2 separate regions of the Homo sapiens genome follow, and region 2 is linked to region 1. Evidence: fine-mapped expression QTL. A gene starts in region 1. The other region holds a variant in brackets. All regions are shown on one strand. Distances are between the middles of the regions.

Region 1 (15,279 bases):
GCTATTGACATGTCCCAAGGAGGGCTTTAGCCCTGGCCATTGGCCTGGGGAGAGAACAGGGAGATGGAAATGGACCGCCCCCCGCAACCCGCGTATAAACTGTATCTTCTGCCTCCTAAGAGCTGAGGCTGCCTGAAACCCTCACCTCTTGCTCAGAGGTGCTTAGACCCAGATCAAGGGTCAAAATTAGAGGCCCTGGGGTGAGTCTTCTGGTCACTGCCCACCCTGTGCACCCCAGGGGTCTCCGCACCGACCCTCTTGGGGTTGGTCCCTTTGCTGCCTGCCTGGCCCACCAGGGGGATAAGCCTGGGCTCCACCTCCAGCCTCCTCAGCCCCACCCTCCTCGGGGGCTGTGGGTGCCCTGAAGAGAAGTTACAAAGAAAAGAAAGGAGCAGGGAGCAAAACAGAAACGCCAGCAAGGAGCCTCAGGACCACGTGCCTAAGTGAGCTCCCAATTCACTGCTTTGCCAAGTTCCGCTCAGCCATGCCAGCGGCCCGGGCCGCAGACACCAGTGAGGAAAGGGATCCTGTTGAGAAGAGTGTCAAAGTCAAGTCTCCAAAGCGGCTGCTGAAGAAGTGTGCACGGTGGGTTCAGGAGCTCTCTCCCTACTGAGGAAAGAGTCACAGAGGACTCCCCAGCCCAGTTCCATAAAAAACAATGTTGTGTTCAAGTGGAACAATTCATGAGCGTGGTCTCCTGGGTGCCCCCGATCTTGGCCATCTGTTTGGGAAATCTTGGGAAACAGGGGAACAGCCCTGAGGGGCCTGGTGCTTTGGGAGGTTGGCTGCCCACACCACCTCCTCGACCTGTGCACATTCACCCGGCCACACACAGGAACTCTGGGGGGTGGCACATGCAGGTTCGGCGCTCAAGAAGCCAAATGTGGGCCAAGGCACACCTGCCCTGTCCCCCATGCTCCATGAAAGGAGCTGCCTCTGCAAACAGGGGCTGTGTCCCTCACACCAAGGCCGTGTGGCAGAGGGGGAGGGATAGACCCTGGCTCCAGGATACCCAGGTGCAGCCCAGCTCTAGTAGCTTCTACATCCTAAGGCCTGCCCAATCCCTTGACCTTGCTATGCCTCAGTTTTCCCATCTCTACAGTGGGTGGTAGTGTGGATGAAGCCCTCAGAACCATGCCTGACATACTAAGTGCTACAGGACTAATTGGGAGATAAACAAAGCCTCCCTGCTTGGAGTGTGCCAGTGCACATCCATTTATCGCTCTCCTGGGTCCAGGCTGCTCTGAGAGCCTGGCAGGTCTCAGAGCTGGACCTATGAACTGACGGCCCAGAACACCAGCTAGGAGTAAGGTTGGAGGCAGGGGCTGCCTGGGGGTGGGGTGGGGGCACAGTCCCCAAAAGGGAGGGCTCTTGGAAGAGTGGTGGCAGCTCTGTGCCCAGGCAGGGCCTGACTAGGGCAGTTCTGTCCTGTTCTGTAACTTGCCTCCTGAGGGCTAAAGGAATTTCTCAACACTGCAATGTCTGCTTTTTATTCCAGTGGACGTTACAGCAGAAGCAATCCCTGCTTCTGGCACAGGCCTGTCCCCAAGACCCAGGGATAAGAGAAAAACAGTAGTGAGCTTTGGTGCTACTTCTCATCCACCTACAGCATCCCATCACCACCCCATCACACCTGCTCCCCCTTCTCTGTGGCTGACCCCAAGAGGGCCCTTTGACATTCCTGGGCATAGAAAACAAATTTGGGACAGAAGTGGCTGTTGAGAACCCCGCTCCTGGTCCTTGTGGGTGCTGCCCTTAGCCTTATCCATGTCCCAAGGAAATGGATTTGGTGTTCTCTTGGGGAGAAAAGGTCACCCGTTACATTTCCTAAATCACATTCCAACTGTCAGTTTCTCCCACCCATCACGCACCCTCTCCACCCACTCCACCCAAAATGCCACAGCTCTCTGCTGCCTTAGAGACTGCAGGAGTCAAAACCGCTCTCCTTTCTGGGAGTGGGACCTGCACCGGGGAGTGGTTCTCACGAGGAGCCTAGGTTAAGAGCCACTGGTCTGGTGGGCAGAGTTCAAACTCTGCAAGAGCAAAGACATGCTATGTATGCCTGGGGTGGGCATGCTACCTGGGCACAGTACTCTTTCTCCTGGGAGCCACCAACCATCAGTAAAAGCCAACAGGTAGGCTGAGCCCACTTTGCTGCCCCTGACAAGGGTCAGACTAAGCCTGGTGAGAGTGGGTGGCTCTGTCAGCTGGCCTTTGCTGTGTGACAAGTCACCCTACAGCTTCATTCCTAAAGCAGCCCACATTTATCATCCCACATGGTTTCTGTGGGCGAGGGATCTGGGGGTGGCTTGGCTGGGTGGTTCTGATCTCCTGTGAGGCTGCAGTCAAGGTGTAGACCAGGGCTGCTGTCTCATCAGAGGTTTGACTGGGGCTGGAGGATCCACTCCCAAGCTCATACAGGAGGCCATTTATAGGAGGCCTCAGTTCCTCACCACAGGACCTCTCCAGAGGGCTGCTAGTGTCCTCACACCATGGTGGCTGGCTTCCCCCAAAATCAGTGATCCCAGTGAGAGGGCAGGGAGGCTGCAAGGCCTAGTCTTGGAAGTCATGCTCTGTCACTTCTTCCATATTTTATTTGAAAGAAGCAAATCACAGTCCAGCCAAAACTTAATTAGAGGGGAATTAAGTGCCACTTCCGGAAGAACGGATTGTCAAAGGCCTTGTAGACACATACTAAAACCACCACAGCCACACGGTACCCCAGGTAGGTTTCCCTTTCTTTCCCATTCTTGTCTTTTTCCTCCAAATTACATCCATCTTCTGAGCCTGCCTAGCTTGATTAGAATATTCTCTTCAGGTTCTCTAAGGACCTTTACTGCCAATGACTCTGCACCCACTGCTCACCAGAGGCCTGGTGGGTTTCATTTCAGCAGCCTCACCCTCTACAAGTACAGAGCTGGGAATGGAGTAGGCTCTCTGCAAATATCTGTTCTCACTACAAATACCGATCCAGGGCCTTTTAATGCGTAAAACAAACTATAACCACCAGAGCGACAGGGATGGGGCTTTTTGTTAACACCTCTCCCAGGACTCAAGAGATAATCAGAAACAACTTCCCAGGTTGGCCCTGGCTGTGGCAATGTCCTCAAAGGCCTGGGCCCACTTTTCCCTGGCAGGCTGAGGGGATTGTTCTTGGCTGGGGGGCAGCTGTGGAAGTGGCAGGCCTGCACAGGAAGGGGGGCACACACCCCGAGCTTGGGATGCTTTGTGGGAGGAAGCTGCCTCTGGAAGGTGGTGGTAGAAAAGGCCCTGCAGGCAATGGGTCTGGCAGGCCCAGTTCACTTCATTTTCCCACCCCCCCGTGCCTGGCACCCAACCAGGCCCCAAGCAGGTGCTCAGGAGACAGCTGCTGAGTTAACCCGCGTCGAAGTGGGGGCTCTGGGAGAGTTGGGTTCGGCTAATCAAGGCTTGGCTGAGCAATGCCCAAACATATACACACACAGCACAGCTGCCCTCCCAATGGGAACTGGCCCACACCCCGTGCTGCCACTCATGGAGACCGCCTGAACTCCAGACCCCCCACCCGTCTGGCCTCACGTTATCACTGACCCCAAATGCAGGAACGCAAATCTGCCTGTGAGGACAGGCTGGGAGTGACCCTAACACAGCACTGTTGTCTGAGGGCATTCCCCGAGCAGCCCATGCTGAGGCTGCTCTTGCATGGGGGCTGAGACTGTCCTGGAATGGGGGATTCCCTGAGGGAGCAGGACCTGCATCTGTCACACTCTGTCAGCCTGAGCCGTGTGCCTCTCCCTGGGCCTTGGGTAGCTAAGACGGCAATGGACACCACAAACAGGCCATGCCACAGGGTGACAGTGCCCCAGAGCCACAGAGTTGTCACTGCAGCTGGGTGGAGGGATAGGGTCTGACCCCACTATATCCAAGCCAGATCTTCAGAAACCCTCCAAACCCGTCCTTCCCTTGGGCTCGCTCGTGGTCATACATGCACTAGGCTGCTACCCCTGTTGGATGCTGAGGGCTACCTTAAGCTCCTCCCTGTCCTCAGCCAGAAGTCTAGACAAAGTTGCCGCCTGAGGGAGCCCAGCCTGGCACTTCTCACACCTCCACAGATGCTCGCTTTCTCCAACCCTCCCATCTCTCTCACTGGGTGACGGCAAGTCCCCCGTAGTCTTCCCCCTCACCCTGCTGCCTCTCTTCAGTTCTCTCTCTGTTCAGCAGCCAGAGTGACCTTTCTAGAAGGGAGATCTGATCCTTGGCACTGCCTTGCCCAAAACCTCCTAGAGACTCCCCACTGTGCCTCCCCTCTGACGACAGCCTACAAGGCCCAAAAGGACCCAGAGCCTGCCCATCCTGGTGGGGATGTGATTTGGGTGGGGACATGAGTCCATGCCACCTGTGGGTACAGCAGAGACCTGGGGCAGGAAGTCAAGTAAACATGTCTCAAAGGAATAGCCGTCTCATGGGCTCAGTGGGAACAGAGTTGACAACAGGCCCATGTACCTGAAACCATCAAGTTGGAAGGGAAGCCCCAGTGGAATGCAGGTGCAGGCGACACACAGGCCACAGGAGGCGGAAGATTCTGGAACAAGGACATGGGCTGCAGGGTCAGCAGAAACCTATGACCAGTGAAGGAAGAAGGTGGGCGTTGCAGGATCACAGAGCCCTTACCCAGGACAGCTGCAGTGGTGGGTGTGTGGACCAATGCATGCAAAAAGCCTCACTGAAGGGGACCGAGGAGGGGCCACAGACTGCCAACTGCAAGGGCTGACCTTAAGAGCAGGCTTCCTGGCAATGCATCAGCCACTCAGGGATAACCCTGAGGTCCTAACCACCCCCACTCCCCCACGTTCCTGTCCACTCCTGAGAGCAGCGTGGGGTGGGGCCTTTCTTCAGATGGACTGCGGAGGCTGCCACGTGGCCCTGGGCCTCTCAGCTTCCGAGGGAAGCAGCAACTTGGGAACCTGGCTGGGTCTGAAGATGGTTCCACCCTTAGACTCCGAGGGTGGGGGCAGGGTAGGGAGAGAATTGAGGCCCACAGAACTCCTTGGCCAGGGCCTGCCACACATCCTGCTGCTTGGGTGAGGGGCTCCCACAGCAGTTCTTTCTCCTGCCTTGCACTGCAGAAGAGGACTGGTGTTTCCCCTGGGACACCGCCGGGGCTCTGGGCCCCATCTGCACTTCTGTGCTGGCAAATGCAAAAGAATTAGCTCAGCAACTTCCTCCCCTAATCCCCCACCCCCACTCTAAATACCTTGGAATCAAGAGAAAAGCCGAGTGGACGTTTTGAGCCTAATTCTCTTCAGCTGTGAGTGCGTGTGTGCGTGCGTGCTCTCGGGTGCACAGGCTTGCAAGGGAACCTTTTGAACCCCAAAGAGTAAAGCTGGAGGGAGTGCAAGGAACGCTAGCTCAGCCCCTACCATGTACAGATGAGGCAAACCAGACACAAAAGGAGAATGGGACCTGCCCTCTGTCACGTGGGGAGCTCAGGGAGTGGCCACCAGGTGCCCAGGCTCTCTGTCTCACACCCACCCCTGCAGCCTTGAGTCCCAAGAAGGTGACAAGGTGCAGGCGCCAAATTTCAAAGCCTTCCACAACCCACAGAACAATTCAGAAAGGGAGCTGGCCGTGACTGCAGCCCCCTCCCAGAATTCTGCCATGGTGCCCAAGGCCAGCCCTGGGCTCACCTCCCAGCCTGCCTGGCAGCCCCCATCTGCCTCTGGGGCTGGCCTGGAGTCCGCCCAGCCTCACATGCTTCTCTAGCCAATTCCCACGTGTCTCTTGTCGCCCGACGAGACAACAAACCCCTCTCAGTCTCGGCCTGTTTTCCTCTCCACTCTTCCCCCAAAGGACTAGAGGAGGCGGGAGTGGGGGCACACAACAGGTGCGCTGGGCTGGCAGGCGGCGCTGGCTGATTGACGGCACCCCGTGTGTGGCGAGGGGGTGAGGAGCAGAGGACATAGGACACAGAACTGTCCTTCCTGACCACGTCTGGTGAGCTGGTCACAAACAATAGTGACAGGCTCCTTGGCCTGGCAACCCCACTGCTAAGAGTACTCAAGGAGACCTCACACAAGCACACAAGGTGAGGTGCCCATGGAATATCACAGGCGGGGAATTTGTCAGGGAAAAATCCAAGTGCCCAGGAGCTTGGGGTCTGAGGTTCCAGGGTTAGGTAGAGGGTGGAGGCAAGCCCAGAACATGAAAATCTATATAAATGAATCAACTACTTGTAAGATATGTCCCCATCCAGGCCCACAATTAGAACCCACAGTTTTGTTAAGTGTAAGACCAAATAAGCTCAATTTTCATGACTTTACAAATCAGTTTTCAAGATAAAAATCCTAACCAACACCCTTTGTCACTCTTTAGTAGGAGGGTGGACACCATTTTAAGTGAAATTGATTTAGGGAGCTTTTCAGCCTGTGTTCGACATCCTTGGAGAACACAACAACAAAGGCTGGGAGACAGCTCTGTGTCCAAGAGCGAGGACTGAAGGAGTCCACCAGGCTACCTCCTCCATCTGATGCAGCTAACAAAGGCCCAAAGAAAAATGGCCACGTTTCGAAAATCTGTCTTTCCCACCAGAATGTAAACCCCACATGAGTGGGACTTTTATTCTGGTGAAATCTGTGAAATGACTCTGAAGACCTGGGATCCTGCTCCCCTGACCTCCTGGGGAGGTAGAAATGGACATGCAGGGAGGGTGATCAGGGGAGGATTCTGGCCTCCTGAGGAAGGCTGAGGAAGGCCAGAGGAGGCCTGGGGGCCACAGTGAGGCTGGAATTGAGCTGCACCCCAAGCAGCAAAAAGGAGCAGGACAGGGGCCTGAGGCCACCCTCAACTCAACATTCCTGACCCTGTCTTCTCACATAATCTCTCTCGTTTCCTATCTCAATGGCTCCAAGAGGCTGTCAGCATCACCTCCATCCTACAGGCGGGGAAATGAGACTTGCAGGTATCTCTGCATTGCAGAGTCCAGGCCAGGGTCAGGACTCCAGCCCTGCCCTGCTCTTTTTGGTCAGGGGCAGAGAATAATAGTGGTCACTGAGTGGGAGTTGTGATCCTTTGGATGTCAAGAGAGAGGCTGGGCACAGAGGAAGCAGGCAGACAGGCAGCTGATAATCTGTCCTGAGGAGGCAGGAAGGTGGGAAAGCCACTTGGGAGCTGAAGTTCCAAGCTCCATTTTCCCCTCAGACTTCACTTCTAAAACACAAGTTCAAAGATAGTAACTATCAAGAATTTCAAGACAGTGACATTATAGCGTGAAACCCTGAGTCTGGGGTGCACCTGAGCACTGGCTCTGAGTGATGGCACTGGTTGCACAGCTGCCTCTCGGACAGGCAGATGACAAAAACTTCCCAGCTAGATAGTGAGGGTGGACTGCGCCCTCTGATCAGACACATGAACTCCCTGGGCCAGTGCGAAGGGACAGGCGCCCAGGGGATGTGTCACTTGTGCCCAGATTGCCTGTGGGCTGAGCAGGAGGCAGGGAGTGGACTCATCTGGGCGTCGTTGCTGAAGGCCTGAAAGGAATCACTTGCTGCCTGAAAAAATGACACCATTTTCTCTTTCTCTTCTGGGCTGAAGAACAACAAAACCCCCAACCCGGTCACCCTTGGAGAGAGATTCCTGGCTCTCCCGTAGACGTATATTTTCGGCAGAGGCAGTGAAGATGAATGGCCTCCTTGCGTGCCTTGGTGGGGGGACGGCTGGCTCGCTTGGCTGGCTCCAGCCTCCCCCTTCCTCCTGTGTTTGAGGTCAACCCTGGGTTGGGGTTGTAACAACTTTCGAGAACATACCCAGAGTCCTGCATTCCAACACTGTTTTTGCAGTCCACATGGAAGGGCCAAACGGCCCCCAGCCTTGCCAGGGAAGCCTCAGGGTGTGAACTTCTAGAGGGGGCTTTTGTGACCCAGGCTTTTGTCCCCGGAGTTTATGGCAATGCTTGGCATTCAGAAGGCGCGCGCCAGCGGCGCGGAGGGGACGGACAAGGGGAGGGGCCGGCAGACGCGGTCAAGTGTCACGCCCGGATGGGGGATGGGAGGTGGGCAGGGCGGGCCCGGCCGGGCGCTGGCAGGCGCGGGGCGCCCTCGGCGCTGCCCTTTGCCAGGTGGGTGGCCTGGCATGTCCCGGCCACCCCTGCCACTCACCCCCTGAGGTCCCAAGTCCTCAGGGGTGAGCGGCAGACACGGGTGTTCCAGGCACAGCAGTGGGGGCTTCAGAACATCCCGATCCCCTGCATGGACCCGCTGGGAGGGGGGAAAACGCCTCCCGCACCCGGTGCCACGGCGGTGGAGACCTTGCCCGGGTTCGAGGGTCGCTGCAGCGGCGCCGGCGGAGGGGCTGGTCTCGGGCGTGGCCTGGACGCCCACAGGCCTCCACACCGAGGGCCCACAGCAGTGTCGGGGTGCGGCCGCTGTCCTCACGCGGTCACCCCGGGGTGGTGAACACATCACGCAGAGAACTGGCCCGTGTCTCCAGCTCACCCCGGCGATGCCAACGCTGAGGCTGGCGCTGGCCCCGGCCCCCGGTGGTGCTCAGGGACGACGGGTGGGGGCAGGGAGGGCGGCGGCTCGCGCCACCTCACACCCAGCCAGTGCCTCATGCGGCGCTGGACCCGCTGGGCCAATCTGAGCCCGGGTGGCATCAAAACGAGACTCTTTCGGCCAATGACAGGACACGGCACATCACTTTCCGCACCCAGCCAATCCGTGCAGCAGCCCGCCGCAAGCCTTCCCCTGCTGCCGCCCAATCAGCAGGTGGGGGGCGGTCGCCACGTCGGCAGCGGCGGGGGCAGTCGGAGCGCTGCCGCAGTCTCCAGGCAGAACGGTCGCCGCGTCGCCTCAGCACGGACCTCCAGGGAGCTCCTCAGCAAGATCCTGCCAGGGCGCCCCTCAGCGCGATTCTGCCGGGGTGCCTCTCAGCGTGGTCCTCCCCGGGGCTCCTCAGCACGATTCTCCCGGTGCGCCCCTCAGCGCGGTCCTCCTCGGTGCGTCAGTCATCGTGGTTCTCCCCGGCGCGCCCCTCGGCGCGGTTCTCCTCGGGGCTCCTCAGCGCGGCGCTCTTCTGGGGGCTCCTCGGCGCAGTTCTCCCCGGGGACTCCTCGGCGCCGTTCTCCTCGGGGCACCCGGGGCTTTTCGGCGCGGTTCTCCCCGGGGGTTCTTCGGCGCGGTTGTCCCCGGGGGTTCTTCGGCGCGGTTCTCTCCGGGGGCCTCTCGCCGCGGTTCTGTTCTCCCCGGGGGCTCCTCAGCATGGTTCTCCTCCGCGCGGTCCTCCCTGGGCCTCCTCAGCGCGGCACTCTCCTGGGGGCTCCTCAGCGCGGCACTCTCCCCGGGGGCTCCTCAGCGCGGCACTCTCCCGGCGGCTCCTCAGTGCGGTTCTCCCAGACTCTCCTCAGCGCGGCCCTCCCCATCTCTCTGGGAGGGTTTGAACACGGTCAGCACGGACCTGGGCGGACGGCGCGGGACGGGTGATCACTGGCGTTGCTGAGGTGAGCTGTGTGCCCCGCGGCCGTCCCAGATCACAGGCGTCAGCAGTGCAGCCTGGCCTGGGCAGTGCGCTCCCATCTGCACCTTATGGACAGCGTGGCCAGGGTCGAGGTCCGAGTTCCTGGCCGCGTCCCAAGGATCGGATTCCGGGTCTATAGTTCTCATGGTGGTTCAGAGTGGGCTGAATTGGGATTGGAGTCTGGAATCCGCATCGTGGTTCTGAGTCCGCGCTATTGGGATGGAAGTTGGGAATCCATGTTGTGGTTTTGAGTCAAAGCCCGAATTGGGACCGGAGTCGGAAATCCACTTAGTGGTTCTGAGTCAGGGCCCGAATTAGGATCGGAGGTGGGAATCCCCGTTGTGGTTCTGAGTTAGGTATCCTAGTTGGGATCAGAATTCGGGTCTAGGGTCCACATCCTGGCTGGGAGTTTGCCTGAGTTGGGATCTGAGTAGTTGGGGTCCCAGTCAGTCCGGGTCTGGAGTCCGCATGGTGGTTTTAGGTAGGGCCTCATTAGGGACAGAGGATCGGGAGTCTGAGTTGGGGACCTGAATCCCGGTCTGGAGTCTGCATCATGGCTCTGAGTTGAGATCCAAGGGAGGTCCGAGTTGGCGACTGGAGTCAGGGTCTGGAGTCTGTCTTTGGGTAGAGGTTCTGAATGGGGGGCTCTGAGTTAAGAGATTGGGATTGGGGTTAGAGGTCTCAGTGGGGTATGGGAGTCAGGAATTGAAGTCGAAGTTCTGCCTCTAGGTGGGGATTCTGAGTCAGGAATTAGGGGGCGAAGTAAAGGTTGCAGTCTGAGTTGGGGGTGGTGATCACCTGCCAGGTGAGAGGTAGTGGTAGAAGTCTCTTGGTCATATTGGAGATGAGAGTTGATCAGATGCAGGTCTCAGTCTGGGTAGTAGGCTTGAAGGGCCACCACTATGTTCAGATCCCAGTACCCCACTGTGGTCCCTGAGCAGGTCAAATAGCCTTTTATATAAAATTGAGAGTAAGAGTGCCTTCCCACAGCACTGTTCTGGTTATGAAAGAGAATAATTCATCCAGGTAGAATAGTTCTGTCTTAGATTATCACAAAGTATAAAAACTTTCCTGATAATATCCACATTTGATGTGCATTTACCAGTTCTTTCTTTACTGTGGTGCCCCTTTTGCTAGACCAAAAGCTCCCAACGAGGAACTCTGTTTTGTTTTCTGCTGCCTGCTCTGTACCCAGCCAAGAGCCTGATACACAGCCTTACTCAGTCAGTACTTGAAGGAAAGCAGGCAGGCAGGATTAACCAGATTTCTATGGTGTCTCAAATGATCCATTTCTGCACCTGTTTTCCAGATACTCAGTAGGAGAAAAATTTAAGGATTGAGTTGCTTGATTATGGGTGTATTTTAATGTGTTTCCTAACATGCTGAGGAGAAAAGTGGGTCTGTTTCAGGATTTATGCTCCAGCTAGAGGGATTTTTTAAAATTGCGAATCAGAGCATGTCCAAATTCAGATAGAAAGCACAAGAAAACTATAAAGAATTTCCCTTATGAATGTAGATGCAGAAGTTCCTTGTACAATGCTAGCTAACTGAATCCAATAATATGTATTAAACAACAATTCTTAAACAAGTGGGATTGCTCTTAGGAATGCAAAGATGATCCAATATCAGAAACTTTATCCATGTAATTCACATTAAGAGGCTACAGGAGAAAAACCATATGGTTCCCTCAATAGAGGCAGAAAAAAATGATGTGATAAAGTTTAACGCCTATGTGTGATTTTGGGGTAGTGGAGTACACCACTTAGCAAGCCAGGACTAGAGAGGAACTTCTTCAACTTGATACAAGTTATAAACCAAAACTTAACTTTTCAGTAAACTTGATAGAGAAATTAAAAGTGTATCATTCTCTTTAAGATAAGGAGTAGGCCAAGGATGTCATCCTGGCCATACCCTAATACAAGAAAAAGAAATGGGGATGTGAGGATCAGGTAGGAAGTGATAAAACTTAGTGTAGCTCATAGGGTTGATGGTCTCCATAAAGATTCTCAAACATTTTGGTGTTACGACTTGTTGTATTCTTAAAAGTTATTGAAACCCCCAAAGGGCTTTTCTTGATAGAGATTCTATCTGTTGATAGTTACCATCTTAGAAGTTAAAACTAAGAAATGTTTAAAGCAGAACTATACAAGCACATATTCCACTGGGGTCATGGTGTGCTGCCTCTGGAAAACTCTTTATCTTTGTGAGAATGAAAGAAAAGGCAAATAATGTCGAGTATTATTATGAAAATGTTTTTGACCTTTCCTGAAAGGGTCTGGGGGGCTCTCTGGAATCCCCAGACTACACTTTGAAAATTACTGGGCTACATGGAAAAAAAAAATTAAGGAACTTAACAACTAAAGAGAGATTTCAGATTTCAGAGAGGTTTTGGATATAAGATCAGTGTACTCAAAACAAAAAACAAAAACAAACCACATTTCTTTATGCCAATAGCAACTGACTAAAAAAAAGCATAATAGAGATTAGGACAGCAATCAGAATAGCAGCAAAATTTATACCAGTCTAGGAATTAACAAAGACGACGACTTTTATGGAAAAAATTTTAAAACTCTATTGGAGGATATAGAGGGAGATCTTTCCATATGCAGAGACATTTTATTTTCTTGAACAGGGCAACTTGGCATTAGAATGACGTCAGGATTTTCCAAATCTGTTAAGTTCAACAGGACTCCACTCAAACTTCCAGTTGGAGGGCTTGAGTAATTTAACAAACATATTCTAAAATGTATGTGGAAGAAAAATATTTGTAAATGCCAACTGAACTTTTGAAAAGGAGAGCAGAGGACTTCTGCTGGCAGATACCAGGGCACACGCCAACTTCAGCAATCAGAGCGGTGTGGTGACAGAGGCCCAGAAGAGAGCTCAGAGGTAACTCCAAGTCTAGAGGAAGGGGACATGTGATAAAGGTGGCACCACATATCAGTGGGGACTGTTCAGAAGATGATGTTGGAAAGCCAGCCCTAAAATGGAGGAATAGGAATATGGATTCCTAACTGAGCCCCTAGGAAAAGTAGACTCCAAATGGACTAAATATTTGAAAGCAAAAGGTAGTTGCCATTTGTTTAATAGGAGAAAAAATGAATAATCTCCAGGGCCAGGGTGGCCGTGGGGTTCTTAAACAGGATCCAGAAAGCACAAACCTCAAGACTAAAATGTATGAACTTGAATGCATTAATGATTATGGATTAAGGATTTCTGTTAAATAAATCCATCATGGCAAGGGTCAAGACTGTTTTCATAATAATACTAAGGAAACAATTTGCGTTTTTCACTTTTACACTCATGAATGTAACTTTGCCATGACTCATTACAAGATATTTGAAACAATTAAAGCTGAGGAGGGAACAACAGCTAAAATATACCAGAAAGCACCACAAATCATTAAGAAAAAGGTAGGAAGATTGCCAGTTTGCAGGAGGGTTAACAAACAGATGAAAATTTGCCCAAGCTAATCAGTTATCAGAGAAATGTAAATGAAAGCAACAGCTATTCTTCATAGGAGAAGCATTAGAAAGTAGGATAAGGCCAAGTGTTGGCAGAAGGCAAGGAACAAGCCTCCCTGTGTGCTGCAGGTGGGGACGGAGACAGGCACAGACGTTCTGAAGAGCTGGCCAACACTTCTTCCTCAAATAAAATATTTTATACCTGTGGCCCAGCAGTTTCCCTCCTAAGTAAACATGCTGGAGCAGTTCTCACCCAGAACAACGAGAGGCTGTGTGTGTGCATGCTCAGGGCAGCATGGCCCATAGGGGTGGGCAGTTGGAGCTGGTCACTGTGGTTAGGAGCAGGGGACTAGATGTACACTTCACAAGATAGAGACGCGTGGAAACACAGTGCTGAGTGACACAAATGCCAAACAGAAAGAGGGCCTCAGTACATGACTGTGTATTTAAATTAAAATTACACACCACCCAGACACGCAGTACTAGGGAGTGCTCGTGAGTGCACACACACACACACAATGATATAAATAAATTACCCTGGAGAAGCTGTTTGTGTAGGGAGGAGAGCAAGGATAGAGGCTAGAGATGAAGTGGAAAAGCATGGAGAGGAAGAGAGCGGTGACTTTATGCAGACCCTTACAGGGTGACAGTGTTTCATAGGCTGAGGGCTGTGATCAACTCTGTGCAGAGTCCCAAAAGCCAAGAACCAACGAATGAATGTGCCTCCATGACTCTCCTGCCAGATACCCTCTAGTGGCTTCTATTTCTAGGAAATAAAATTCAAATTCCATCAGGTTTTTACAAGATCTGCCCTGCTTACCTCTCTGACCACTGTCCTCCCTCACTGAGCTTTGGCTCTGCCAGCCTTCTTCTTCTTTGTTAAATCTGCCAAGTATCCCTCCTGCCCCAAGGCCTTCACCACCTCTGCCTGGCTTGTCTTTTCTGGTGATCTTCCCTTGACAATTCCTTCTTCTTATTTAAATCTCACAGGAAATTTTGCTCTGACCTGCCATATCTGTCATCCCCTTCAGTCACTCACTAGCTGACGACTACCTTTCGAGTCTCTGCAAAGCACAGGCTACGCTTTTCTAGTTCCTTAGACATCTACTTATTTGTTGGCTGCCTATCTCTTCCACCGGAAGAGAGGCCCCAAGAGAGCATATCTGTCTTCCGTATAGGGTCCGCACATGGTGGGTGTGTCACAGATTTCTGTTGAATGGTTTCATTCATTTATTGAACGAAGGAAGAGGCCAGGCCAGGAAAGTGTGCCTCCATTTTCACAACTCAGTGAGAAAGCAAATAGCATGTCAAAATCTGACCCCTTGCAACCAGGGTTTCTTAGCCAGCCACACTGGTAATGCTTGGGACAGGATGTATCTTTGTTGTGAGGGGCTGTCATTTATATTGTAAGATGTTTAGCACCCTGCCTGGTCTCTACCTAGTTGATATTAGTAATTCTCCCATAGTCATGATAGCCAAAAATATCTCCAGACATTGCCATATGTCCCCTGGGGGGCACCGCAGATGACAACCACTTCCTTAGAACAGCTCTTGGGACTGGGATGGTGTCTCTGCTGTGGCTCTTTAAAGGCAGCAGGCCCTGGCTTGCATCCTGCCACATCTAACACCTATAGCCTCACCACCTCGGTGAGAAAGACCCTGGCCCAGGCCTGGCCAATCAGAGTACCCTCTTCCCTGGTCAGCAGTATAATTTGTTTGGCAAGCACTTCCAGTCCCACAACCTATGGGCTGCCACCCAGAGGTTTAGTTGGAACTACGTGTCAGCTGCCGTCCCTCAGCCATCTATGGCATGGGCACCTGTGGCTTGACCAAGTTGGAGGTGGCCTAGAGAGGCCGGGCTGGGCCTGCTCACCTTCTCCAGTTAGTGCAGACTGATGAATGAGTGGTTCTCAGCGGATACCGGATCCAGGTTTGCAGTACACTCCAGGAGGAGGACGAGTAGGGTTTCCCTCAGAGCAGGCCTGGATGGGAGGGCAAGGGGTGGCCTCTAATACTGCCTTTCCTTCCGGTGCCTTTATCAGCCTGTGCCATGCTCCTCTGAACTGGCCGGCCCCAGCATGTCCAGGTTACTGGCAGGAGCCTGTATAACCCAGGGTTCCAGTCACACCAGCCAGGAAGGCCCATGAGGCTGGAGCGCACCCAGTCTCTGGCTGCTCTGTCTGCGGAACTAAAAGCCTTTCTCCCAGAGCCTTTCCTACGGCTGGGCGAAGCTCTTGTTTGCAATTTAAATGTGGCCTCATTTATGGAAGAATCCCTGCTCCTCCGAAAAGCCTTGGGCTCAACCTCCCTAGCAGCCCGGGCCTCA
Region 2 (15,279 bases), 30 kb before region 1:
GCCAGCCAGGATGGGTGGGGGCCCTGCTGCGACCCTGGCCCTCCCAGACATGCTGGGCACACATGTGGGGTACCTGCCTGTGCCAGACGCACTGCACACACTCAAGGCCACCCCAGGACAGGGGATGTCAGTCCCACTTCACAGGGAGGCGGAGGCAGCAGAGAAGTCAGTCCTTTTTCAAAGCAGCATGGTGGTAGCAGGGCTCGAGCCATCCTCTGCAGACCCCTGGACTCCACCTGTACCAGGGTCCCCCCAAGCCCCAACCCTGCTGGTGAGTGACAGCCTGCACCTCGCTCACCCACCTGGCCGCAGGCACCTCACTGCACCCGCAACAACAGGGCAGGCCTGGGGCCAGCGTCTGATGATAGCCCACTCTTTGGCCTGCTGAGTGTCTGCGGAAGGCCAGTGTGCCAATGCCCAGGTGGCAGAAGGACAATCCCCCCAGGGTCTGTCTGTGTGGCCAGTGCTGCAGCCCACGTTCTGCTGGGAGGACAGCCTGGCCCAGCTGTGGGGCCCCCAGGAAAAGCAGACATCCACCCCACCCCTGAACACCCAGGAACCGCACAGGCCCCTCTCCAGGCTAAGCCCTGCATCTCCTGGTGACTCGGGGGCCCAGGAGGGATGGGACAGGCTGACTTGGCCTCCTCCAGCCTCCAAGGGCACTCTGCTCTAGGCCTGGCTGGGAGTGGGGGGAGGTTGGCCATGGCTCTGGCCAGGGTCTCTGCCCCCAGCAGAGGTGAGCAGAAGCCTGAGATTCCCTTGTCACACACGCTAGTGCCAGTGGCCCCGACCTGCTGCATTCTCACATGGCGCTTAGCCTGGAAGAAGGATCTTCTGCCTCTTTCCTTGCTTGGTACAAATGTCACCTCCCTCAGAGAGCCTTCCTTGATCTCCCGGCTTCATGATAACACGTCTGCCCACCCCCATGGCCAAGGAACCCGCTGTGCCCCCACACTCCAGACCCTGCCTCCCCCTGGGCTCAGTAAGGAACCCGCTGTGCCCCCACACTCCACAGCCCACCCCCACCGAGCCAGGGGCTCACTTCTGCCCTCGTCTCTCCTCCCTCCCCACCATTTGGAGCAGTTTCTCCTTTCCTCGTTCATCTTCTCCATTTCCTGCCCTGACCACAGGCCCAGGCTCCTGGGGCCAGCAGTCCAGGCCAGGCTCGGCCCCTCCCAGCAGTGGAGGAGGGTGTGGTTCTCCCTTGAATCCCTGCAGCCCAGGCCCAGGGCCCTGCCTGGAGCAGGAAATGGATGAAGCTGAGAGGACCCAGTGTCATTCTGTGCCCCCAGGTGTGCCTCCCCTGGGCAGGGGGCACCAACCCCTTTCCCTGCCTCCAGCCCACTCCTGTATTATGACCGCCTCACATCCTCATGTCCATGATCACAACAGCAGGCATCCATCACAGAGTTAGGGCTGTGACGGTCGCACCCTGCTGCAGCCCCACTCTCCCTGGCAGCGAGGTGGACATGGCATTAATAGGGACTTTGCTGTGACCCCATATCCCTGCCGGGCTCGGACCCACCAGCCGTGTTTTATGGTCTGCGAGGGCCGAGTCAGCACGAAGGCTTCCCGGCATTTTACACAAAGCTTCTTCGCCGTGAACGGAGTCAAATTCACTCACGTTGGGATCATAAATATAATTAGGAGACTTTTATTTTCAAGTAGCACTTCTGAAATCTATAAAATTAAGCTAATATACTGATTTTTAAAACACAAGAATTTTATTGCTCTGTGAGTCAGAGTTTGCCAGCCCACAAGGCCAGGAATTAACTCCTTGCAGCTCGCGGGCATCCAGCAGGCCTCCAGGGGCCCCCGTGGGTCTGGGCCTGCTGCACCCACTTGAGGTGCACATGCCCCAGGAGAGCAGCTTCCTGGGACAGAGAGGTGGCTGGGCAGTGGCCGGACATCCACCCACACGGCAGCAGCTGCCCGGGGCTCTCCCTCTCCACCGGCACCCCTTCACTTCTGTGCTGGGTGCCCTGGGAACAAGTCCAGATGCTCTCGGGATCCAGCCTCTGCTTACCCTGTGGAATACACTCCCCCCAGAATTTCCCTGCCTGCCTCCTCCTCTCCTGGGGGAGTCCTCCCTAATCCGCTGCCCTACCCTGAAGGCTGCCCCTTCCCGCTGGGATCTCTTCTGGACCCACTAATGGAAAGTGGTACCCCTGGCTCCTCCTCCTGGAATAATGGGATCCCCGAGCAGGGAGTGCTGGCGAGGGGCACTCAGGATGTCTTGGGAAGGCAGGCGGTGGGGGTCGGGACTGGGCTTCCTCAGCCACCCTCGGCTGGCACTTCAGGGTAGCCCGAGGCAGGCCCAGGCTCTGCGCCACTCCCCACCTGTGACTGTGGGGTCCCTGAGCCGTGGGCATCTTATCTTGACCGAGTTTTCACCCTTAGGCCCCACCAGGCCCAGCAGAGGCGCAGGGCGCATGCCAGCCAGCCAGGAACCCACCAGGGCAGCCGCATACCAGCTGCAGATGCGCAGGTGAAATGGGAAGCCGCCCTTTGCTCTGGGCCACACCTATGTCAGTGGCGGAAGATCACAAGGGACACCTGGAAGGGGCTAGGTTGGGGTTTGCAGGCTGTGTAACTGGGGGGTGGGAGGGACGGCCCTAAGCAAGCCGCTATGGCGATGAGCTGGCATTGACTCCCTCAAGGGTCCAGCTCCAAAGCCCCCTCCTAGGGCCATTGGCACCTAGCGCCTCCCATCCCCAAAGTGCACCTTCTCTCCAGGCACGGGGGCCACCGTCTAACCCCAGAGGCCCCTCAGGCTCTCCCAAGCCCACTGGTCACAAGTCTCAGGAAGACTCCAAAAAATCCAGACTCCCCAGAGGCCTGGGACCTGGGCCCTCGGCACTCCAGGGCTCCAACTATTCACAGCCCCCGGTGGGCCCCAGATCCCAGATACGGCCCAAGCTCGGTCGCCTTTAATCCCATTAGGTCCCCAAGACTTAGAATGGAGTTTCAACTGGTCCCAGTCCTCTAATCCCCTGGACTGCTGGTTAGGAAAGGCTTCCTTCAGATTTGGGAGCACAGGGTAAACTGAAGGGCAGGCAGGAAGCCTGGGCCCCTTCCCAGGTAGGTTCTGCCCAATGAGCCCCCTCTGGCATCTAAAGTATGTATAAGGACCACCCCCCAACCCCAGGCAGCTCATGGGCCTTCTGCACACACATACTGGAGGGCCAAGGAGCCCCCTCGCTTCTCTGTCCCTTTGTACACAGGGAAGGGGCTCCAGACACACTGGAGGAAGGGCGTGGGGTCCTCTCACCCACCTCCTCCTGCCTCTGACTGTGACTGTGTGTCTGGAGATGGGGTCTTATAAGAAGTAATTAAAGCAGAATGGGGGTATAAGGGTGAGCCCTAATCCCACCTGACTGGGGTCCTTATGAGAGGAGAAGGTGACTCGGGCACACACAGAGGGATGGCCCCATGAGAACACCGGGGAAGGTGATGTCTACAAGCCACGGAGAGAGGCTGCAGGAGGACCCAGCCCTGCAGCACCTTGACCTTGGACTCCAGCCTCCAGGGCTGTGAGGGGATGAATGCCTGCTGTTTAAACTGCCCCACTGTGGTCTTGGTGGTGACAGCGGAGTGGACTCATGTCATCCCCCAGCTCCTCCAAGTGCTCCTCAAGTGTGCTCAACAGAAAATGGTGAGGAGGGAGAGGGTGGTGGGCCAGGCCCTAGGATGCCTGCGGGGTGTGGATGGGTGGGTGAGGGGCACTTCAGGACGGTGGCTGAATGCAGTGGAGTGTGGCTTCAGGCATCCCTGGCCTAGGAGGGGTGGGAAGGAGCAAGCAGTGGTTGGGCTCTGAAGGAAGGGGAGAAGCTTGCGGGAGGGGAGGTGGGGGCGGCCATGGCCCACCCTCCACCGGGCAGGGCCTCAATTGCCATTAGCCTGTCCCCACCTCCCACCCCAGGGCCCCAGGCATCTCTGGCCATCCAGGGGCCAGGCTGTCCCCCAGGGCCTCAGGGCAAGTGGCGTCTCATAGGGGGTCACCATCAAGGAGAGCCCCCTGAGCAGCCCTTCCCTGGCTCTCACACACAGTCCCTCCCTGTCCTGCTGCGGCGCTGCTGTCAGGTTTCACACGTTTTATGGGGGAGTTCAATGTAAGCCAGATGCGCGCTGACAGCCACGGCACAGGTGATGACAAGGCAGGGCTTCCCTGGCACATGTGCCTCTTGTTAGTGTGCCCTCCGAGGCGCTTACCCCACCAGCCTGGGGCAGCGTGCACAGCCGGCTGGGCACGCGGCCACTCCGGGGCACATGTGTCGCACTGGAACATGCTGCTGGCCCAGAAGCCTCCTGGAGACATCACCTCTGCGGTGGTCCCAGCCGGGGCCTGGGAAGCCACAGCCAGGCCCCAGCACAGGAGGTCATCCCTATTTCACAGTGGGGGAAACTGAGGCTGGAGGAGGCAGGAGGCCCATCCAACACGGTTTATGGCGGAGGAGCGGTGGTCTTGCCCTCGCTTCTGTCTACATAGCAGCTTCCAGGATTACCTCTCACCTCCCTGGCTGGCACTGAATGTGCCTGGGACCTGACTCATCTCTTCAGGAAGCTACCCCCGAGACCTGCTCCTACTCTCCAGTCCTTCAGGGCCTCGGAAAACCCCTGTTATCCCCCACCCAGCAGCCGCAGCAAGCATCCTGAGATCAGCCTCGACAGCCCCGCTCCCCACATCTGGCTCTCAGCCAAGGGGCCCGTCCTACCCTGCTCCCCACATTCTGCCCATCACCAAGGATCCCGTCCTGCCTTGCCCAGCACAGCTGGCTGCGGGGCCCCGGGGACAGTGCTCCCCCGACCTGCGGTGGCCGGGGGGCTGTGAAGCTTCCTCATTCAACCCATCCATTGCTCCCCTGCCTCTACCCTTGGTGCTCCCCGCCACCTCACGGAAAGTCCAGCCTTCTAGGCGCCTTTTGGCCACCCCTGCCCTGCTCTGCAGCTGGGCTCCGGCCTGAGGCCTCTTAGGACCTGACCCTCCCAATCTGCCTCTGGCCTGTGCTTTGGATGGTTCATTCGTTTATTCTTTGGACGTCCACCATGCACCTCTCACACACACCTGCGGGCCCTGGGGCCGGAGCAGGACCACCCCTGCCAGTGCTAGACAAGCTTGAAACTGTGCCTGTGATCAGAGGCCAGAACCACTAGAAAGGCAAGGCTGGGGCTGGGAGAACCGCAAGGTGGTCCTGATTTAGAGCGCGCAACTGCTCTGAGGAGGATGTTCAGGGGAAGCGTGGGTTGAGGCCTGAAGACTCAAGAGGATTAAGCAGGGAAGAGGAGAGCGTGTGCATGTTTCGGGGGTGGTGCGCCTGGCAGGGCAGGGGAACAGCGGGCGCGAAGGCCCTGAAGTGGGGGGGGAGAGAGAGAGAGAGAGAGAGAGAGAGAGAGAGAGTGAGAGAGTGTGTGTGTGTGTGTGTGTGTGTGTGTGTGTGTGTGTGTGGAAGGCCTGAAGTCCCCCTCCTGCCCGCTAGACCCCTCTCCACTGCCTCTGCCCTCCAGGAGGCTCTATAGCTTCAGATCTGAGGCCAAGAGGGCAGCACACTTGGCCTGGCTCCTCCCCCAGGGCTGCCCAGGCCTGGCTGTTCTTCCTCTCAAGGTGCCCACCGTGCCCGACTGTCTCCCTAGGAGCTGCCAGCAGCAACCTCGGGGGTCCCCTGCTACTCTTTGGGGTCCCTATGCTCTACCTGTATCTTTGCAACTAGAATGAGTCCCCCTCACTAGGGGTACCACCTATGGCTGCTGTCCCTGCCTGACACCGCCCAGGGAAGCCAAGCCGTGGGGAGGGCCTGGGCCAGCCTGTCTGGAAGGAAGCTGAGCAAAGGAGACTGAGGGTTTGTGGGAAAGTGAGGGTCGGGGTCGCAGTGAAGGAGGGCGAGTGTGGGGAGCCCCTGTGTTGAGTGCAGCTGAGAGGCCTGAGTGGGGTCAGTGCTGATGGAGGATGCCCCTTCCCTCTGGACACACAAAGGAGCACTAGGGAAGGCAGAGAGAGGCCTGGGGGTGGGGGTGGGGGTGGGAGTGGATCTCAGAGCTCAGGGCTCTGCTCTTCAGACCCCAGCTGCGGGGCCAGAGCCGTTCTGAGGGACACTGGAGACGTGCAAGGCTGGGTGATGCCTCCTATTTTACAGAGGGGGAAACTGAGGCTCCAGAAGGTAAGGGGCTGGCTCCAGGTGGAGGATGGGCTCAGGTGTGGCTGTGTCCCAGACCCCCTCTTCCCAGGACCCTGGCTGGCTTGCTGCCTGTGGGTGGTCACCAGCCCCCAGCAGGAGCCTCGAGTTTCTGGGCCTCCAGAGGGTGGGTGGGACCAGAGCCACCCCTGCCTCAGGCAAGATGGGGCTGGGGCCCATGGGGCAGGGGAGACCGCCAGGGCAGGGGTCCCCTCCCTGGGCCCCAGTGGGTGGGACAGAGGCCCCCAGGCTCCGGCTGCAAGGCGAGGCCTCGGTGGCGGCCACAATAAATATGTTTGTTCAAGGGAAGCCAGGCTGGGAGCTGTGTGCGCCGGCCCGGTGAGGAAGAAAAGGCCGCTTGTGCCTTGCACACTGGGGCGATTGTTCCTGCTCACGCAACTGCTGCCCCGTGGCCGGAAAGGTCAGACGGCCCTCGGGCCCCGTCGGAAGCACCGGTGCCTCGGGCCCCTTCGCTCGCGCCTGCTGTAACATTCGCCTGCGCTCCTCACTGCCCGGCTGCATCCACATCACCTCCAGGCCTTGGCACGGGGAGAGAAGGTACCAGGCAAGGTCTGAAAGATGGCCCAGCAAAGGCGAGGGAAGAAACGAAGCCAGGAGTCCCCTGCCCAGCCCAGGCGTCAGGAATAGTGTGGAAAGAGGAGGCCCCAGCTGGTGGCCTCAGCACCCTGAGGGAGTGGCTCTGGCCCCGAGGGTCTTCGCAGTGCCCACGGGGCAGCTTGTTTTGTGGACTATTGTTTGGATATTGGGGGATGCCAAGGTGAGGGTTGGGGAGAGGCCCAGGAGCACATGAGAGGTGCCAGCAATGCTCCTGAGGCAAGACCAAGCATCGTCCTCACCCACCAAACAGAAGGCTGAGAGGCACTGCCTGGCCGCAGCCCCGCTTCAGAGCAAATGGAGTCGACAGAGGCCACCACGCAGGCACTCCTGGCTCTCCCACAATTTAAAAACCCTAAAGGGCAAAAATCAGGAACTCAAGCCTGGTTTCCTCCCATTCCTCTGAAGGGGGAGGAAGGAACACAGGAGCCCACGGCTTGCAGGCCACACCTCGCTGGTCCCCTGCTGGCAAGGCGGCCTCCCTCTCCTCTCCTCTCTGCAGGAGACAGCTCTGTGAGATGGCTTCATCCAAAGGGCCCTCAGAATTGTGGTCCTGATGGTGAAGGCTGTGAGCAGCCGCTGCAGTGGTGTGATCAGACGCTCTAGCTGAGTGAGTTACCCACCACTGTCTTCCACCCGGAAGAGCTGGGAGATGGGGCCATAGGAGCCTCCTGGGTGGCTGGCAGAGGGGACAGGGACTCTGGACCAGCCCTCCCCTCCCTTGCTTCAGGCGCCTTTCTCTGGGCCTCAGGCCCTCCTGTGTGCGCTGCTGGGGGTGATTCTAGGAACCTGATCTCCATGACCACAGGGTCCCCCAAAAGATGGGTCTGTTCCGGAGGGCTTGCCTCAAGCAGCGAAGGGGACTCTGACATGGGAGGAAAGCCCTCTCCTGGGTGAGAACCTGGAGCCGCACCTCCTGTCCCGAGAGATGGCCGCCCTGGGTGTCCGCCTTCCCTGTGTCCGGTGCCCGAGTGGGCGTGTGGTGGGCGGCCTGCAGTGCTGGCTCCCTTTCCCAGGCCTCTCCCGCTGACACACAGCCGGAATGTGCCAGACTCACCAAGGCCTGAATTCCCGAGGGGTCTGGCATGCCGACTGTGGGACGAGGGCATTTGGGCATTGTTCTCTCCATGCAACAGTGGGGTGCATGGGCGGTGAGGCCCCTTGGATTCCGCCTGCCACCCTTGGCTTTATGAAGCTGCACCAGGTCTGACTCAGGCCTTGAGGAATTCAGCACCCCCTCGAGTGGGCACAGGGGACTGTACCTAGGGGCTGCCTCCCTCTGCCAGGCTGGGCAACGCAGCCCCTGCCGTGAACAGAGGTGCCTGGCTGCCCTCTCTTTCCCCCAGGTCCCTGAGGACCTTTGGGTCCAAGGTTGAGCTGTGAGGCCAAAGGAAGTGTTTGCTCCCAATGCAGGGCAACAAGGGCCTTCCTTTTCTATGAGCAAAGCTGGGCTCCCAGAGAGCGGCGGCTGGGAGGAGGCTGGGCCGGGGCTCTCATTTCTGTAGTTGGTTCAGCTGGGGGCAGCCTCTGGTCCA[T/A]CTGGCCTGGTGCCCAGCCCTGCTTCTGGCCACAGCCACAGAGGCCTGCCACCAAAACGGCTCCAGCGTCTGTCCCCCATCCCTCCATTCTTCCCTCCTCTGCCCTTCGAAACCACCATTACTGAAGAACCCTGCGTCTCCCAGGGGCAGCCCCTCTTGGACCACCTGCAGCAGTTCATACCATAATCCGCCTCCCCCAGGGTAATGGGGCCTGGATAGGGAGACTCTGTGGCCATACAGGTCTCACCTCTGCACTGGATGCCTAGGGACAAAGTCCACCTGCCTCCTGGGGCCTCCCAGGCCCCCTGCAGTCTGTCTCTGCCAGACCCCACCACGCTGCTATTGACCGGCTCCTCCAGATCACCCCTGCACTCCCCATAAGAGAAAGAGGGAGGAAGGGAGGTTGTGAAGAGCGCAGGACAGAAGCAGAGACAAGGGGGCCGTGGGGAAAGGCCACAAGCCAAGGGAGGTGGGGCCTCCCTTTGAGCTTCCAGTGGGAACCAGCTCTGCTGGCTCCTTGAATGTAGCCCATGTCGGACATCTGACCTCCAGAGCTGTTAGATAATAAACGTGTCACTTAAAGCCACTAAGTTTGTGGGAATTCATTACAGCAGCCGTAAGAAGCTAAAATGGTCCCTCTCAAAACAGTCCTGAATCTACTACTTCCTCCTCGCCCTCCTGGTCCAGCTGCCATCCTCCGCCTGGACTAGTGCAGTGGCCTCCCTCCTGGTCTGCCAGGTCTGTCCCAGCCCCTCAGTGGTCCATTCTTGGCTCTGCAGCCAGAGTGACCCTGTTGCCATCTGCGCCAACCACACCGCACTCGGGGCCAGCCAGGGCTTCACGTGTCCTAGCTCTCGGGGTCCCAGCACATGGGTCTCCTTGCTGTCCTGCCAGCCTGTGGGCCCATCCCCACTTCAGGGCCTTTGCTGTGGCTGTACCCTCTCTCCACAATGCTCTTAGCCCTGACACCATGAGATTCACCTCGCTTTGGGGACACTGTAAGGTCCTCCACGACCCCATCCACAACAGGCCCCTTCCCCAAACCAGCCCTGCCTGTCTTTGTTTTCCCTTCCAAGCACTCTGTAGATAAATACTAAAGTGCAGCTGTCCCTCAGCACCCATGGGGACCTCCCGCAGGTACCCAAATCCACAGGTACTCAAGCCCCCGATACGAAATGGTGTGATACTGACATGGAGGCCACATACATCCTCCCATCTCCAGACCACTTACGATACCTAACAACACAAATGCTGCGTGACCCACTCTATTGTTTAGGGAATAACGACAAGACAAAAAGCCTGTACAAGTTCAGATGTTCAGCACAGATGCAACTTTCTTTCCAAACATTTTCCATCCACAGTTGGTTGAATCCATGGATGCAGAGCCCTTATACGTCTCCCATTGGTGGACATCCCTTTGGAATTTCGTATCAGTTTTGTATTGTCACTGCTGTCCCTGGCACCTGGAGCAGGCATTCAGTATTTGTGGAGTAAATGCCAACACATCTCACTTTAAGGACTTCACTATCTTCTTTCATTTAATCCACCTGGCAGTGCTACAATGTGGGGACTTTATTACCCCCATTGTATAGGTGTGGGCACCGAGGCACAGAGATTTGTCACGTCCAGGGCAGTCACTCGAGCCCGCAGCATGGCCTTAGCCCTGTGGCAGGGGGCTCAAGGGAGAAAGAGCTAGGCCAGACCAGCCCTTGCCCCTAGGCCTTGCTAAGCAGCTTCTCGGCAACAGGTCTGGACCCTCGGCCCCGGGAGAGCCCAGCTCATGGGTTCCTGGCCCGAGCGCCCTTTGTGCCCGCCTGGGGCAGGCGGGGGGTGGGAGTGTGCTACATAAACGGGCTATTGTTCTGTGACTACAGTTGCCAGCCCTGCATGCACAACAGCCCCTGTGTCTGCAGTGGCTCCCAGAACCAATCAACACCTTATCACGAGCATTAATCACCCCGCTATCTGCCCCAAATCAGGCAAACACTTCTGGGGACTTCAAACCCCTGACTGCACAGAAGTTTCTGTGTAATAATAGATTAAGTTTCTGGTGGTTCAGCAGCATCCACTGCGGCCGGCCCTCTGGGGTGCTGAGGGGCCAAGGGCTGCCAGGACCAGGAGGACGCTCTGCTCCGGCCTCAGCTCCTCCTGAGATGCTCCTCCTGCAGCTGGAGCCCTCAGGGACTTCCTGTCCCCCTGGCACTCTGGGCCAGCAGAACCCCATGCCCAACTGGCCACCCTGAGCCTCCGTCCTGTAGGCCAGCTTCTGGGAGGATGCAGTAGGCTCAGGCCCCGTGCCCTCACGCTCCCAAGGCCCGGCTCTGCTGGTGGGCTGTGCCAGAGTGTTTTAGAATCTCCTAGAGGAAGTGACCTGGACCCTAGTGGGCGGGAGGCTAGCAAGCCAGAGGCTGCAGAATTAGTAGGAAGCCAGCCTAGCTCTTGTCACCAAGCACCAACCCCCGGTTCTAGAGTCAAACGCTCGGTAGGTCCTATAGAAAAAGCAGCTAACCAGTTGGCGTTCAGCCGGCTGTGGTCCCCTGAGGGCTGGCGCCGGGTCAGGCATAGCACTGTGAACAAGAGTCCTGGCCCTGGCCTCAGAGCACAGCCACCTGGGGTCGGACTTACCCTACGAGGTGCCAGGAAGAGCCTTGGGAAGCCACAGAGAAGTCAGGGCAGAAGGGTGGGCGAGTGGCCGCTCCAGAGGTGGAGGGGGCAAAAGAGGTGAGGCCTGTGTGAGGGGAGGACAGAACCATCGGAAGTCCTGGAAGGGATTTGTGCAAAGGCCCTGGGCAAGAACACTCTGGAAGGAGCTGAAGGACGAGGAGAAGGCCAGAGTGGCTGGGGAGGGAGGAGGGGAACAGGGAGGCAATGAGGCTGGGAGGTGAGCGGGAGCGGTCACATGAACCTCACGCAGGGTAAGAGGGTTAGATTTTGCACCACATATGATGGAAATGAAGCGCTTTGACTAGCGCGGCCCCGGGGGCCATCAGATGCTCCCTCTGCCTCCACAGCAAAGCCCCACAGTGCCCACAGAGGAACGAATGCCTGGCCACGTCCCTGCCCCTTCATAGTGCAAGACGAGCCCACACCAGGCCAGGTGCTTGGTGTTGTACATCGACACCGTTGTGGAATCCTGGGCTCTGTCTGCTCGCCCTTCTGCATACAGCCCTTCTCCATTCAGCTCACTCTGCCCTAGGAGGCTGATCTCTGCAGGTTATGTCCACAAGCTCCTGGCCCAGGGCTTCAGATTGGGTCTAGCCAACTGGACCCCTGGCAGGAGGCAAGGAGGGAGGAGAGCGGATCCGGGGTGTCTGCTCCTGCTCCCTGCCGTGGAGCTGCTGGGGCCAGTTGTGAGCCTCATGTCAGACAGCCATCATTCTGTTAAGCTCAGGCAACCTCCTCCTCCTCTTTATTCCTCGAGTCTGGGGTAGGATTTCCCCCAGGGACACTACCCCATGTTCCTGCACAAGGCCTGGTGGTCCCTGACACCTGACTCACACAGGAATGATCCTTGGGTGCCGTCCTGCGCCCCACACGTAGCTACCGTGATTGTCCCTGTTTTACAGATGAAGAAACAGAACCTCAGAGAGGGCTTGAGCTGCCCTGGGCCCCTGAGCTGGGATTCAGACCCTGATGTGTCTGCCTCCAGGGCCTGAGCACATCCCCCAAGCTGCCTCCTTGTCCCTAACATCTGTAGACGCTGAGCTTTTGAGGCCTCTGTTGCTCCAGAGCCCCACTGCCCCATGGCTGCTCCTTCCTGAAATCTGGCTTATGTCTGTCTCGCTCCTACAGGGGCAGATATATCACAGGACCTAAGAGGTAGAAGCAAACCTAACAGGGCAGAGGAAAGGGCATAGCACAAACCCCCAACCAAGTGGCTTAAGTGTCCCCTCCCTGCTGCCGACCTCCATGCCCAGGGCCAACCCTTCACCTGGGGGCAGGGACAGGGCTTGGAGAGTCAGGATTGGAGGCAAATGTGTTCCCTTTCTCACTGCTTTTGGGCTTCAAGTGTTCTGCTGGGAGCTACTTGGGAGGGGCCTCTGGAAGGGCAGACCTGGCGCCCATGCCAGTGGGGCACGGGGGATACCTCTCTGCCAAGCAGTGAGGAGATGGGCACAGTCACAGGAGAAGCACATTCCATGGGAAAGCCGGCTTTAAAATCACTATTTCCCCCGTATTAAAGTCAGCTCCTATTCAGGCCAATGCAGAAAAATAAAATTTTGGGGGAAAATATAAACTACTATTCCTCCCTGCTAGGAATGGGTCATCCCCTTTTTCTCTGGCCTCAGTCCACCAGATCTTCACCGGGGTCCCACCCAGTGTCCCTCTGGACTTCTGGCCACCTCCCTCACATCAGCCATGGTGGGGCAGGGGTGGGGTGGGGGACGGCTGGAACCTGCAGTGGGTGGTGTCTCCGCCTGGGGCCTCAGTTTCCCCACTCTGACAGGGCAGCATCCATCTCCTGAGCTGTGTCTGTGCCCTTTTGGAAACCTACTGCTGGCCCAGGAAGAGCACCACCCTCACTCGACACACCGTCTGTGATCTGAGGATGCTGCAGTTCCCCCAAACCCATCCAGGGGCCCTAGGATCCTCAGGTCAGGGGGCCAGGCAGCCACTCCTTCATGAAGACTCCCGCCCATCTTGCCACGTCAGCACACATCTCGTGAGCGAGCTCAGCTTCTCTGGGCCACTGCCCGGGACCCACCCTTGGCCTGCTCCTCTGCCCTGGCCAGCTGGAAGCAATCTGCCTGGAGCAGGCAGGTGGTCCTCCTTAGTGGGCTCCCAAGAGGCCGTCCCCAGCCCTTCACCCACGCAGAGGTGGCTCTGTATGCATGGCTGCCTGGGGCCCCTTCTCTGCCGGAGTGAACCAAGTGCTCTGGAATTCATGAAGAAATCAGGGGTCTTTAGCCTGCTGTTTTTCTTGGCGAGGCCTTATCACAAATTAGTGGGGAAGCCCGAAGGTTAGGGTTTCAGTTAGTTCAGCAGAATCTGAGGAGCGGGGAGTTGGCCTCCTGCCTCTCCAAGTCAGAAAACGCTTGGCCTGTGGGGCCCCAGGGAGCTCTCAGAGCCCAGGATGATTAACCAGGCAGGTGACCTGTGCTTTGGGTGGGGGCGGGGGTGGGGCCTGGGGGAGATAGCTTTCACACAAGCTGACAGGTTTCACAAAGCCCAGTGATCTCTCGTACCTTCCCCAGGCTGCCCTCGGCTGGAGTGCACAGCCTGTGGGCCTGGGGCTTTGGCACTGAAGGCAGGGCAGGGCGCCCAGCCTCATGGAAAGGGTACGTTCGGGAAGGGGGCGAGGGCAAGTCTGACTTGGGTTCCAGGGGCAGCCCTTTGAACTTGGCGACTTCACGTGAATGCACTTCCTAAACCACAGCTAAACGCAGAGGTTCTATATCAGTAGCTCGAAGACGATTGGGGACCCCCAACCGGACAAATGGCAGGTCACCTCCACGCAAAAAGTGGGCTCTTCTGAGGAAAAAGCAGGCCAAGTTGCCTCTCCTGTTTTGGAAGGCAGGAACCCGAAAGCCAAACCACTAAGTATCCACCAGCCACTCACGAACTCAAAAAAGCTGGGAACATTTCTGGCAAGCGCTGGTCCCGTGGCTGAGCCCCCGACCCTGGAGTGTTTCACAAGTCCAGCCGTCTGTCCCGGATGGATTCTGGGAACTTGTCTTAGGCTCACCACTGGGTCTGAGCACAGATGGCCGTCGGCTTCCTCCTGTCTCCACGTCAGGAATCCGTGCCTGCCCCACCCTGCCCTGGCTCTCCCCTGGAGCTGAAACGGGTCCAGCACTGCTTCAAGACGTGAGCTTGTTTAGGAGTCATTGTCTGATGCTTCTCAGACCCTGTGCTTCTCTATTGGGCCCACAGGCTTTTCTTAAACGGACAGGGACCCTGGTGGCACACCAAGTTCCAATCCAGTGGCTCCTGATAGCCACACCAGACCCTGCCCTCGGCACCCTGTCCAGGTTACTGGATCAGTCATCTCTACCCTGTGACAGAGACCACCGTGTTCCCATTTCACAGTTGAGAACGCTGAGGCCTGGTACCTTCCAGTGCCTTGTTCCAGCTCCATACGATGGCCAGAAGCTTCAGCCCAGTGACTCCACCCTCTGTGGGTGAACTGGCCCCTTCCCCCAACTCTGAGCCCTGGTTCTGTTGCCTGTGTCTCCTTGGGCAGGTCCCCACGTCCTCCTCTGTGAGCCCAGGACAATCACAGTGTCGCCTCCTGGGGAGCGAAGTGAGAGGGAAGGGCAAGGCTTGGGTGCAGCTGCAATGGCACCCAAGGGGAGAAGCTGTGTTTCCGCGGGAAGGGGTTCCTAGTGGGGTCCTTCCTAGGTGACAAGGCCCCTTCTGCCCTCAGTGCAGCCACGGCCTTGCAGGACAGCCTGCTCGCTGCCACCCACCACTTCTCTCTCTTTGCCCTCCCACCCTCCTTCCTCCAAGGGCAGTGTTAGCTTGCCAGGGAGGGTTCGAGGCCTAGGGCTGGCGGGACAGGGACCCTGGCTGCCAGCTCCATTCCACTGTGCAGAAACCCAATCCGGGCGGGAGGACGCTGTCACTCCTGAGGATTTAGGGCCGTCACCTGGTGGAGCGGGAGGGCTCTCCTCCCTGACAGAATAAGTGGTTACATGCCGAAAGGTGACACCGCAAAGGGGTCCTGAGCCGGGAGGAGGACTGTATATCATCTGAGCCTGGATCTGTGCGTGTTTTTCTTTCTGTCTTTCCTTCCTGGTCTCCTTGTCGCGGCCCCCTGGCGATCTTACCAGAACGTCCTGGTCCAGATGTGATTCTCTATCAAAAGCCTGGGCCCCCAGGCACCACCGGAGGGGCTGTGTGCAGAGGTGGTGGGGGCTGCATAGATGGAGTACAGGGCTCTGTGTCAGACACAGAGAGCCATGTTCTGATTTCTGCTCCCCCGGTGAAAAGAGTAAATGCCTCCACGCCCACGGCAG

Direction of the effects. Positions count from the first base shown, and alleles are read on the strand shown. Sizes are in standard deviations (SD) of each study's normalised expression.
For the expression in pancreas of the gene that starts at base 8,806 in region 1, A is the high allele of the variant in region 2 and T is the other (small effect, 0.30 SD a copy in GTEx).

What was found. PIP is the estimated chance that this variant, and not a neighbour inherited with it, causes the effect.
Region 2: its variant is fine-mapped to the expression of KCNQ1OT1 in pancreas (GTEx, PIP 0.99).

Annotation. Positions count from the first base shown.
Region 1 is chr11:2,693,521-2,708,799 of GRCh38, reverse strand. It overlaps KCNQ1OT1 (KCNQ1 opposite strand/antisense transcript 1), which reads left to right and starts at 8,806. Exons shown (of 1, transcript NR_002728.4): 1 at 8,806-15,279. The region is part of intron 11 of KCNQ1 (potassium voltage-gated channel subfamily Q member 1); the gene reads right to left. RefSeq lists silencers at 419-589, 8,323-8,392, 8,403-8,672 and enhancers at 7,366-8,605, 15,062-15,279.
Region 2 is chr11:2,723,942-2,739,220 of GRCh38, reverse strand. All of the region lies in intron 11 of KCNQ1 (potassium voltage-gated channel subfamily Q member 1), which reads right to left. Among named protein-coding and RNA genes, the nearest start is that of KCNQ1OT1, 32 kb to the right of the region's middle. RefSeq lists enhancers at 1-555, 2,349-2,518, 4,035-4,536, 7,304-7,473, 13,319-14,314 and 1 more and a cis regulatory region at 2,433. The variant T/A (reference allele first, on the strand shown) is at 8,321.